Regions from separate parts of the Homo sapiens genome. Here region 2 is linked to region 1. The links come from fine-mapping of genetic effects on gene expression. Tissue or cell type: whole blood. Region 1 holds a variant in brackets; the other region holds the start of a gene. All regions are shown on one strand. Distances are from middle to middle.

Region 1 (5,484 bases):
CGACGCCCTGCACTGCTCCCGCCTCCACCAGCGCCTCCCACTGATGTCGTGGTCCCGGGCCTGGCCCAGGGGCCCCTTTACATGCCCTCTCCCTTTTATAAAATTTTCCATTAAAAACCACCTATTTTCTATCTTTTGCCTCCTCCTGTCTATTTCTCCAAGTCTACCCCAGTTTGTGCTTTGAGTCACTAAATGACATTCCCTTCCCTTCTGACCCCTAGTTTCGTCTGTCTCTCTGCCTCTCTTGGTCTCTGTCTTCCTTCTCTCTCTGTCTCTGTCGTTCTATCTCATCTCTGTCTCTTTCTGATTTGTTTTCTCTGCCTAACCTCTACATCCTGTCTTTTCATTTCTGTTTCTGCATGCGTCTTTCTCTTTTCCCTTCTCTTTGTTTGGTTCTTTCATCTCGAGAGCAATCTTGCCTCTGGATTTTTTTTTTTTTTTTTTTTTTTTTTTTGAGATGGAGTCTCACTCTGTCACCCAGGCTGGAGTGCACTGGCGCCATCTCCATCCACTGCAACCTCTGCCTCCCGGTTTCAAGCGATTCTCCTGCCTTAGCCTCCCAAGGAGCCGGGATTACAGGTGCACACTACAACCCAGGCTAATTTTTGTATTTTTAGTAGAGACGGAGTTTCGCCATGTTGGCCAGGCTGGTCTCAAACTCCTGGCTTCAGGTGATCCACCCACCTTGGCCTCCCAAAGTGCTGGGATTACAGGTGTGAGCCACCGCACCCAGCTTTTATTTTTTAGAGATGAGGTCTCCCTATGTTGCCCAGTCTGGTCTCAAATTCCTGGGCTCAAGTGATCCTCCCACCTCGGCCTCCCAAAGTGCTGAGATTATAGATGTGAGCCACCGTGCTTGGCCTAGAAGTCTTAAGCTGTCCTGGAACAAGTGGGGCAAGAGCAGGGAGCAGGAGTCCCTGGAGGGCCAAACCCAGACCTGACGCTCCAGCTAGGAGTTGGCTGTGGATGGAGTATGGAGCGGCAGTCCTGACAGCTGGAGGCGGGAATGAGCTCTGTGTGTGATGGTGGAGTGCCCAGCACGGACCTCCTCCATGTGCCCTGCCTGCTTACTGGCCATGTTCCTAGTCCAGACTCCTCCTCCCTAAAAAACAAGAACGGCCTAGATCAGCATAAACTTAGGGCAGGAGTAGGGGTCGGGAATCGTGGGTGATCAACTTGGCACTGGGCCAAGCTGGGAAAAAAAAAAAAAATGTACCTCAGCCAGGCGCGATGGCTCACACATGTAATCCCAGCGCTTTGGGAGGCCCAGGCAGGCGGATCACGAGGTCAAGAGATCAAGACCATCCTGGCCAACATGGTGAAACCTGGTCTCAACTAAAAATATAAAAATTAGCCCGCCATGGTGGCATGCAACTGTAATCCCAGCTATTTAGGAGGCGGAGATAGGAGAATCACTTAAACCCAGGAGGCAGAGGTTGCAGTGAGCCGAGATGACGCCACTGCACTCCAGTCTGGCGACAGAGCCAGACTGCATCTCAAAAACAAAAACCCACAAAACTGTACCTGTCATTCTTCACCCACCTGTCAATTCTTGTGTCCCCAGGGTTTCAAACTCATATGCTGCAAAGACCAGAACCGGAATGTTAGCAGGAAGCAGGGAAAATTGAGGCACACATTACCTTCTGCCTAAGGCTTGGTTAGACTAGGAAGGGGAATTTTCCCCATTGTTAATACTTTTTTTTGGCCTGGCGGGGTGGCTCACGATTGTAATCCCAGCACTTCGGGAGGCCAAGGCAGGATGATCACTTGAGCTCGGGAGTTTGAGACCAGCCTGGCAACATAGTGAGACCCCATCTCTACAAAAAAGTAGCTGGGTGCGATGGTACATGCCTGTAGTCCCAACTACTTGGGAGGCTGAGGTGGGATGATTGCTTGAGCCCAGGAGGTCGAGACTGCAGTGAGCTGTGATCGTGCCTCTGCATTCCAGCCTGGGTGACAAAGGCATACCTTGTCTCCAAAAAAGTTTTTTTTAATGTATATTTTTAATAACTATCTGATATTGTTTGGCTGTGTCCCCACCCAAATCTCATCTCAAATTGTAATCAGAATTGTAATCCGGGGAAGGACCTGGTGGGAGGTGATTGGATCATGGGGACAGTTTCCCCCATGCTGTTATCGTGATAGTGAGTGAGTTCTCACAAGATCTGATGGTTTTATAAGGGGCTCTTCTCCCTTGGCTCGCTGTCTCTCCTGCCGCCTTGTGAAGAAGGTGACTGCTTCCCCTTTGCCTTCTGCCATGATTGTAAGTTTCTGAGGCCTCCCTAGCCATGCAGAACTGTGAATCAAGTAAACCTCTTTCCTTTATAAATTACCCAGTCTTGGGTGGTATCTTTATGGCAGAGTAAGAATGGACCAATAGGGCCGGGCACGGTGGCTCATGCCTGCAATCCCAGCACTTTGGGAGGCTGAAACAGGTGGATCACCTGAGGTCTGGAGTTCAAGAGCAGCCTGGCCAACATGGTGAAACCCCATCTCTACTAAAAATACAAAAATTAGCAGAGCATGGTGGTGGATGCCTGTAATACTACCTACTCGGGAGGCTGAGGCAGGAGAATCGCTTGAACCCAGGAGCCGGAGGTTGCAGTGAGCTGAGATTGGGCCACTGCACTCCAGCCTGGGTGACAGAGCAAGACTCTGTCT[CA/C]AAAAAACCAAAAACAAACAGAAAAAGACTAATATAGTACCCTATGGGGCCTATTTGGCCTATGAGGCTCCAGTTTTAATCCTCTAGGCACTGCTGAAATTGCATAAATTGTGGATTGGAGGCTGCTTCCTGACCTGATCTCCAGCCCACCCGCTGAGTGTCAGGAGGGGTCACATGCCCAGCAGCCTCCTGTGCTACATCGGGGAATCATACTAAGAGCGCCTACCCTGCAGGATTGGTGGTGGTGGTTAAATGAATTGTCATATATGTGCTTAGAATGTCACCTGGTACAGAGCAAGGGCTCAGTCATTGTTGGCATAACCCTGGGCCTCCCAGGATATGCTGAGCCCTGTGGCTGGGCAGATAGTAAGGTCTTGTTCTTTTCTCTTTTCCTTTCCTTCTTCCTTTTCTTTTCTTTCTTTCTTTCTTTCTTTTTTTTTTTTGACATAGGGTCTTGCTCTGTTGCCCAGGTTGGAGTGCAGTGGTGCCACCATGGCTCACTGCAGCCTCAACCTCCCAGGCTCAAGTGATCCTCCCACCTCAGCCTCTCAATTAGCTGGAACTGCAGGCATGTGCCACCATGCTCAGCTAATTTTTTAATTTTTATTTTTTGTAGAGAGGGGACCTTACTGTGTTGCACAAGCTGATCTCAAACTCCTGGGCTAAAGTGATTCTCCTGCACTTTGGCCTGCCAAAGTGCTGGGATTACATGTATGACCCACGGCACCTGGCCTGGCTAGGTCTTTTTCTTTACCAATTCTCCCTCCCAGGGTGGAGGAGGAGGCCAGACCCCATCCCCTTCAACAGGACAGTGAGAAACACCTAACACAAGGCCTTGGTGGGGAGGAGTGTCAGACAAGGAGTGGCTCAAGGCTCCACAAAGGGGTGACAGTTGCACAAAACTGTCTGTACCAAAAATCATTGAATTATACACTACACATGGGTGACTTGTGTGGTATGTGAATCATAAGTCAATAAAGCCCTTCTTTAAAAACGCCGACTCTACAAAGCGTTTCAGAAAGTTACCCTCCAGCTGATACAGGGAACCCGACCCAACCACTAATTCCTCAGTCATTCATTCAACAAATATTTTCCTGCTTTGCAATAAGTGAATTCGAGGAACACAAACTTTAACCCAGCCTTGGGGGGTGGTTAGGGAGGGCTCCTGGAGGAGGAGATGTTGGAGCTGAGAGTTGATTACTGTAGGGAAATGAGCAAGATGAAAGGGGTGGAGGTGCCTATAATCCCAGCTACTCCGGAGGCTGAGGCAGGAGAATCTCTTGAACCCGGGAGGCAGAGGTTGCAGTGAGCCAGGATTGCACCGCTGCACTCCAGCCTGGGCAACAGAGTGAGACTCTGTCAGAAAGAAAGAGAGAGAGAGAGAGGAAGGAAGGAAGGAAAGAAGGAAGGAAAAGAAAGAAAGAAAGAAAGAAAGAAAGAAAGAAAGAAAGAAAGAAAGAAAGAAAGAGAAAGAAAGAAAGAAAGAGAGAGAAAAAGAAAAGAGAAAGAGGTGGAGAACCATGTTCCAGGTGGAGGGGACAGCACTTCCGAAGGCCTAGAAGTAAGAGAGCAAGTGTCTGTTAGATGTCTTTCCTTTGGTATCTAAGGCCTGTATTGGACAACAATGGTGACAATCTTGGTGCCTGAGAAATCCCAGGCCCTTGCCTTCATGGGGGACACCGACACATCACCACACATGAGAGCCTGTGCTGTATGGGGGAGGCACAGGCAGGGGTCAGGCTGCGGTGGGGGAAGATCAGAGGGCATGCATGCCCAGAGGAGACACTTGATCCAGTCTGAGAGATGATCAGGGAAGGCTTTCTGGAGAAAGAGACAAAGCTCTGAACAGTCTCTGTTTGGGCGTCTAGATCCCTTTGAGAATCTGTCGAAAGCTCATTCACAGAAGAAAAACTCACACAAACAAAGGTTGCAGGCAATTTCCAAGTATTCTCATCCTTCCTCGGAATCTTCTGTGGGTATCCCATTCCCACCCCGCCCCCACAACCACCTTGCTGCATAAATGTCCCAGGAATTGCGACAGGGCTGGCCAACAGTGCTGGAAAACTGCAATCGAATTTCAGCATCCTGGGAGTGGGATCTTTCTTCTGAGATCTCGCCCGCCGCCGGGCCTGGAGGGTGTGCCCCATGGATCTAATTGTTATCCTGCCTGCATCCCCTGCACTAACCCCCAGACCTGGCGTTGGGGCTTCTGGCACTGGCCGGGACCGACGCGTTCTCCTCTGGAATGTTCAGAGGGAGGTAGTCCAGGCGGTCACCGCGCTCGCCAGACAAGCAACGCAGCGCCCCCCGATGGCCACCGCGCGCCGGCGCAGCCCAAGCCGGCTGCGCCCCCTAGTGGCCGATGCTCGTAAAGTCTTCAGCGAGCCCCGAGCTTTTGCTAGCCAGCCCTTGGTTTTGCAGGCTGGGGTCATCGTCGTTGTCATCGTTGGCATCATCATCATCATCATCATCATCATCATCATCATCAATAGCTAGTAGGCTTGGCGTGGTGGCCCACACCTGTAATCCTAGCACTTTGGGAGGCCGAGGCAGGTGGATCACTTGAGGCCAGAAGTTCGAGACCAGCCTGGCCAACATGGTGAAACCCCGTCTCTACAAAACAGTACAAAAAAGCAACCGGGTGTGGTGGTGGGCACCTGTAATCCCAGCTACTCGGGAGGCTGAGGCATGAGAATAGCTTGAACCTGGAAGGCGGAGGTTACAGTGAACTGAGATCGAACCACTGCACTCCAGCCTGGGCAACAGAGTGAGACTCTGTCTCAAAAAAAAAAAAAAAAAAAAAGCTATGATCATCCAGGCAG
Region 2 (6,063 bases), 59 kb after region 1:
GCATGCAACCACCCACAAACAACTGTCCCCAAGGATGGCCTCCCTCAAGACACAGCCATGGTGGTCCTATAGGCATGGCCACAGCATCAATGTCCATGTGACCCAGCCACCTATCATGGTCATAATCCCGTCACCCAGTGTCCATACACAGCTGTACCATGTCACTCCAATGCAGCGAAACATATAGCCTTTCTTCATGCAGGCACACAAGTCACACAGACAAGTATGTGGCCATATAGAATCACAGCCCCGTGTGGACAGGTGCACAAAGTCACAAGCCCCACCTACACACATATCTCACACATAGAGACATAAGCACACAGTTTTAGTTTCCCATGTCACAAGTACACAGTCCAGTGTATGCACATAAATGCAGTGACCAGGATGTGGCATTTATAGCTGGGTTTACACAGAAGACACAGGTCCTGACGGAGCCATGTGCACAGTCAGGGGCCAATCTCATCACCAAATCACACATTCTAACACAGGTAGTCCAGCACATACACACAGAGACAAAAACAGGCACACAGCTACAGACCCCACACTCTCACAGATGATGACATAGACACAGACATCTATAGTCACCCAGGGTCAGACATGCAGGTCAAACACAATAATATGGAAGCCATAATCATATACACACCCCTACAAACATAATTTCCTGGCACCAGCACGGAGACACATCCACAGCTTTAGTCACACACAAATAATCCCTCTAAATAGCCAGGGTTTCAGACACCAAGTCAAATACATAACCCAAATCACACATGCAAGGCTAGAAATACACACAATCACTCGTTATCACACACACTGCTAGATACAGTCATTTATATTAATACAACCTCAGTCACACACTCAGACATGGTTCTGCATACGCAACCACTGTCATACACAATACTGTCACACAACCCCAGTCACACAGATACAATGTGACTTCAGACACAATGGCAGTCACACAGGCAGAGTTGCACAGACAGGTGTGTGTCACTCACGTATATAAAATCAGGTAGAGACACAACTATAAACATTGTCAGTCACTGGGAGGGTCACACATGCACATGGAGCCATAGACAACTCCACTCACACACAGTCACAACTCCACCCACGTCCTGTCAGTCACACGCATGCCCACCCCCAGACTCAACACATACTGTCACATACCCAGTTATAGTTACCGAGGCATACAAACACAGGGTCACAAAAGACACAATCACAGACAACCACAGTCACAACCATGCACACCTCCAAACACAGACAGACTAAAAAGTACAGGATTCTGCACAGTGAGCAGCTGTCACACACACATACACAGTCACACAGATACTAGGGTCACAGACACAATCATAGACACCACCACAAGCACACACACACGACACAGGATTCCTCAGTCACCAGCTGCAGCGTACGCGTGCACACACACACACACATACACAGCCACAGTCACACAAACACAGGGCACACTCCTAGCCACCTCCCCATCGCTTGCTTCCCCCCTTCCCCCCAGGTACCACACACAAAGCCGCCGTCACCGTCACCGCAGACACTGCAGACAGACAGGGCTGCACCCGGTCCCTGGGGAGCCGCCCCCAGCCCAGCCTGTATCCTGGAGCCTGAGGGCCAGGTCCAGGAGGGGGAAGCGGTGCATTGTCTGCGGGTGGGGCCACTCTTGGACAGCTGGGCAGCCCTGGGGACAAAGGGGGTGGCCTAGGGATCCTGTGCCCTGGGACCCATGACCAAGCCAGGGGGTGGAGGGATTGGGGGTTGCCTGAAATTGTCCTTATTTTATTCAGGCTGGGGTGGGGTGGAGTCCCAGGCACAGGGACCTTGTTTTGAGAAGTGGCTGTGCCTGGGACTCCGCCCAAGGATTGGGGGGATGCTGTGCCCAGGGTGCCTCTGAGACCTGGGGGCAGGCTGTGCTTGGAGTCCCCCTAGGCCTTGGCGTGGTGGGAACGCTGTACCCAGTGACCCCATCCTCGAGACCGTACCTAGGCAGTTGTTGTGCTGAGACCCCCTTAGGCAGGGAGAGGTAGGGATTGTGTCTGGAATCGCGTCCTGGAGGCCTTGGTTTGATACGGGGGCTGTGTCCCCGACCCCATCTCCATCCCCATCTAGTTCTAGGAGTTGTACCTAGAATCTCTGTACCCCTGTCCTTGGTTTTGTGGGGGGTCTGTGTCCAGGATCCCTATTTCCAGGGCCTTGGCAAGAGATGGCCCAGGGGTCTGTGCCCAAGACCCCGGTCTCCTGGGCTTTGGCTTGTTGGGCCTGTTCCTGGACCCCCACCCGGGACCACCCTCTCCAGCCTTGGCACCCTCTCTCCATCCGGGCGCCGCGGCCGCCTCCCACCCTCCGCCACATCAGCAGCGGCGCCGCCCCCGACCCGAGCCCCCCTCTCCCGCCCTTCTCACGCTGGCCGCCGCGCTGCGGGACATCCAGGGCCCGGGCGCCCCCGCCTCCCGCGGCCCTGGCTGGGCCTGGCTCCCCGACTGCTGCTGCTGCGGTGGTGGCGGCGGCAGCTCGGTCTGACGCCGGCCAGGGCCCGGGGCCGGGGGATGGTGCGGGATGCACGCGCGCGAGCCTCCTCGGCTCCCGGGAGGATTCCGTTCCGGGGGCGGGGGAGCGTCCCTCGGCCTCGGCTCCCCGCCCCGACCCCGCCCATTGGCCCGCCGCCTGCCGTATATGCAGAAAGGTCCCGCCCCGCCCCGCCCCTTGGCCTGAAGACCCCGCCCACACGCAGACACCATCCCGCCTTCCCCGGCGCGGCCACCGCCCCGCCACGCCCATTGGCCAGTCCCGAGCTGAGCATGCCTATGAACATCGCCGAGTCCTTTCCCCCGGTCCGTCCTGGCCTGGGCTCCCTTTCCCTCCGTGACACCTGACCTCAGATCCCCTCCAGCTCCGCGTCCGAAAGAGTTGCTTCTAGAGGCGCCTTGCCGCCCCACACCCCCAAATCTTCCCGCTAACCCCATGGTTCCCCAGCCCGGCGGGGGCGGGCAGGAGCGGTGACGAGGCACTTTTTGCAAGGAAGGGGAGGGGGTGTGAACAGACCAAGGCGTCCTGATGCGCGATCGGTTCGGCTTTGGGAACGGGGGCGCCGGGGTGGGACCAGGGCGCGGTTCTGGCCGCTACGGCGCCCCCGCCGCCCCCTACGCCAATCCTGTGGGTTTGGCAAAGCAGCTGGCAGGGACATTAGAGCCCATTAGTAAAGGCGAGGTTGCCAGGAGTGAGGGGAGGGAGCCCGCAGCCAAGAGGCACTGTGTGTGTGGGAGGCCTCAGCTGCCACAGCCCTTAGAGCAGGTGGTCAGCACGTGGGGGGGGGTGGGGAAGGCGAGAAGGAGGTTCCCGGCAACAGATGGCACAGGCAGGGCTGAGGCTTTCAGACAAGGGGGTGCAGGGGGGCTGGCCATCTGCACCTGGAGGCCGCTGGCGAGCTCCTCCCCCTCTCCCCCCAACCCTAGCGCAGAGAAAAGAGCTGGGGGAAGGGGAGGGCTGCTTTTATTCCGATTGAAGATTCAGCTCCCCCCCACCCCGCACCCCTACCTCTCCAACACACTGAGAGGCTGGAACCCGGGAGAAGGCAGCTGTTGGAGGAGCGAGGGAGGCAGAGGTGAGGACTGCCTCCAGGACCATCTCGCCTTCCACGGGAGGCTTGAGGCAGAGGTGAGGGCTCCCCCTGATGAGTCTGATCTGCATAACGACATGCAGCGGCCCAAGGCTCCCTCAAATGTTGGCAAAGATAAGTTAACCGCTTCCCTGGCTTAGTTTTCGGATACCCACTTTCGAGTGGGGAGGTGCAGGATCTAGGGCACGAAGTTGGGAGTTCCCCAGCCCCAGGGATCCTGAGCTCCTGGGCCAAGGAGGAGAGCCAGGCAAGACTGGGAAGCCCAAGGGGGCTCCTCTGACCCAGGGCAGACGGGGAAGGGATAAGAGGCACTACAGCAGGGTACGGCCTGCTCTGGGGACTGAATCCCCCATGGAGGCTGTCATGAGGGATCCACCCAGGAGTCCCCTTTGGTGGGGAGGCTGCCGGCAGTGGCTGCGTCTGGCTGGCGACTGGCCCAGTAGCGGTGGTAGGTGTCCTGGAAGAGGTCCCTGCAGGCGATGTGGGCTCGGAGGTGGGCACAGGCCAGGAAAGCCCCTGCCAGCTTGCGGTGCAGGGCATAGGTCTCCTCGGGTGGGGGACACAGCCGGTGCCGCAGCAGCACCGGGATGAGGTCCTGTATGCGGCGGGCCGTTTCCCCCGACCCAAAGTCATAAGGGCCCTGGGTGGCGAAAGGCTCCCCCAGGATCATCACTGCCTCCACGTGGGCGTCGGAGAATGCCTGGGAGTGGGGGTGGGGGGAGAGCAAAGGCAGCCAGTGTGGACATAGAGCCCTCTGCATAACCCAGAAACAACGTGTAGCCTCCACTCCCTCCAGTCTCCACCATCAACACAAGCCCCGACTCCCCCAAGAGTGAGCAGCTTCCACTCCTTCCAGAGCCTGGACTAGACAAGCAGCTGCCTATTCCCCGAGTAAGCACCCCTTACTTCCCTGCAGAGCCTCCAACAGACAAGTAGCCCTCTACTCTCTCTACAACAGAGAAGCGGCCTTCGCCCCTCCTGAACAGATCCACGGTGCCCATGTTCCCAGGGTTCCTGAGAAGTCAGGCAGCCACCTCCCCCCACTCCTCCCCAAAGCCCCCAGCATGGATAAGCATCCCTCCTAGAGTCACCCACTCCCCAGGTATAGACACACAGCCTCCATTCTCCCTAGTGGAGACAAGCCCCTCCTAGAGTCCCCCAGTCCCCGGGTATCGACATGCCCCATCACCTACTCGAGTTCCTCAGTGGAGATAAGCAGCCCCCCACTGCACCCCACCAACAGACACCAGCCCCTTTCTCCCCCAGTGTCTCCCCACCTTGGTTTCAAAGCCTGTGAGGAATTTGAGGTCCCTGGACTTCTGCAGGACACAGTCTCTGTCTCCATCAGCTGCAGCCTTCACCACCTGGGGAGACGGGTGGGAGTTAGAGGGACAAAGGCCGGGGCTCAAGGGGGCTCTGGAGAAGAGGAGCTGGAAGCCTGGGCCTCCCATGTACCCACCTCCATTCTCATCTGCCTGGGCCCTCCCTCACCTGGAAGCTTCCTGCTCCCAACTTTGCCTGTCTGTGACTCCCTTAAAGACTCTTCCAGAGCCTGGGAGTGGAGGTGGTTAGGGATCCTGCCCACCTAGAGGGCAATGTGGGGCCTGCCCGGGAACTGCCACAGTGAAACAGTGCAAGAAACAAGTGTCAGGGCTGCTGGTGAGTCCAAACACTCAACTGGACGGGTATGAGCGTGACCCAGAACTGCATCCAAAGTTGCCAGGGGCCATCTCTCTGTCTCCCACACTGGACTTTGAGCCCCGTGAGAGCAAGGATCCCAGTTGGGTTTAGTCGCACGGGGCACAGGGTCTGGTGCTGAGGAGGCCCTGGGTGAACCTTGCTTTAGCAAATGAGCGTGTGGAGCAGAGCAGCTCTCCAGCCATGAGCTCACACACACAGGGCAGGAGTTGTGGGCATGGAGAGATGCCCAGCTGGGGCCAGCTGGCTAGGGTTCCGTCCCAGCTCTGCCACCTGCCGGCCTGTTGGGCCTCCACTTTCTCATCTGTGAAGTGGGGATGCCAAAAGTGCCTTCCTCATGGGGCTGTTGGGAGGATAAAGAAGGTGATGCCTGTGGCCTGCCTGGCGCTGTGTCTCATGCAGGAAGCACCGTAAATACTATAATCTACCATTATTAAGAGGTGGGCACGGGGGTCCCTATTTCACAGAAGGGGAAGCAGACCCGGAGTAGGGAGTGGAACCGGGTCACACCACTCACTACTGGGTTGCCCTTTTTTGTGAGGAGGGGGATTCGGGATTAATTCCATTCCCTCTCTGCTCCCCCTGCCCGAGCATGTCTGGCCATCTGTCAGGCCTGTGGTCCTCAGAAGCCAGGGCTTTTATAAAGTGGCAAAGGCTGCAGGCCTGGGTGGGAGGGGAGGGTGTCAGTGGGGAGAAGAAGGGTCTCAGCTTTGTGCCTCAGTGGCCGGCAGAGAGGGCCCCAAGGG

Evidence for each region. PIP is the estimated chance that this variant, and not a neighbour inherited with it, causes the effect.
Region 2: NUMBL starts here. The variant in region 1 is fine-mapped to the expression of NUMBL in whole blood (TOPMed, PIP above 0.99).

Annotation. Positions count from the first base shown.
Region 1 is chr19:40,629,688-40,635,171 of GRCh38, forward strand. It overlaps LTBP4 (latent transforming growth factor beta binding protein 4), which reads left to right. Exons shown (of 30, transcript NM_001042545.2): 30 at 1-131. Among named protein-coding and RNA genes, the nearest start is that of LTBP4, 31 kb to the left of the region's middle. RefSeq lists an enhancer at 1,213-1,803. The variant CA/C (reference allele first, on the strand shown) is at 2,662.
Region 2 is chr19:40,688,055-40,694,117 of GRCh38, forward strand. NUMBL (NUMB like endocytic adaptor protein) reads right to left here and starts at 2,597. Exons shown (of 10, transcript NM_004756.5): 1 at 2,406-2,597. The coding sequence starts at 2,429. It overlaps COQ8B (coenzyme Q8B), which reads right to left. Exons shown (of 15, transcript NM_024876.4): 14 at 4,897-4,983; 15 at 3,476-4,319. The coding sequence ends at 3,981. RefSeq lists enhancers at 888-1,827, 1,501-1,550, 2,766-3,703 and silencers at 2,390-2,729, 3,050-3,289.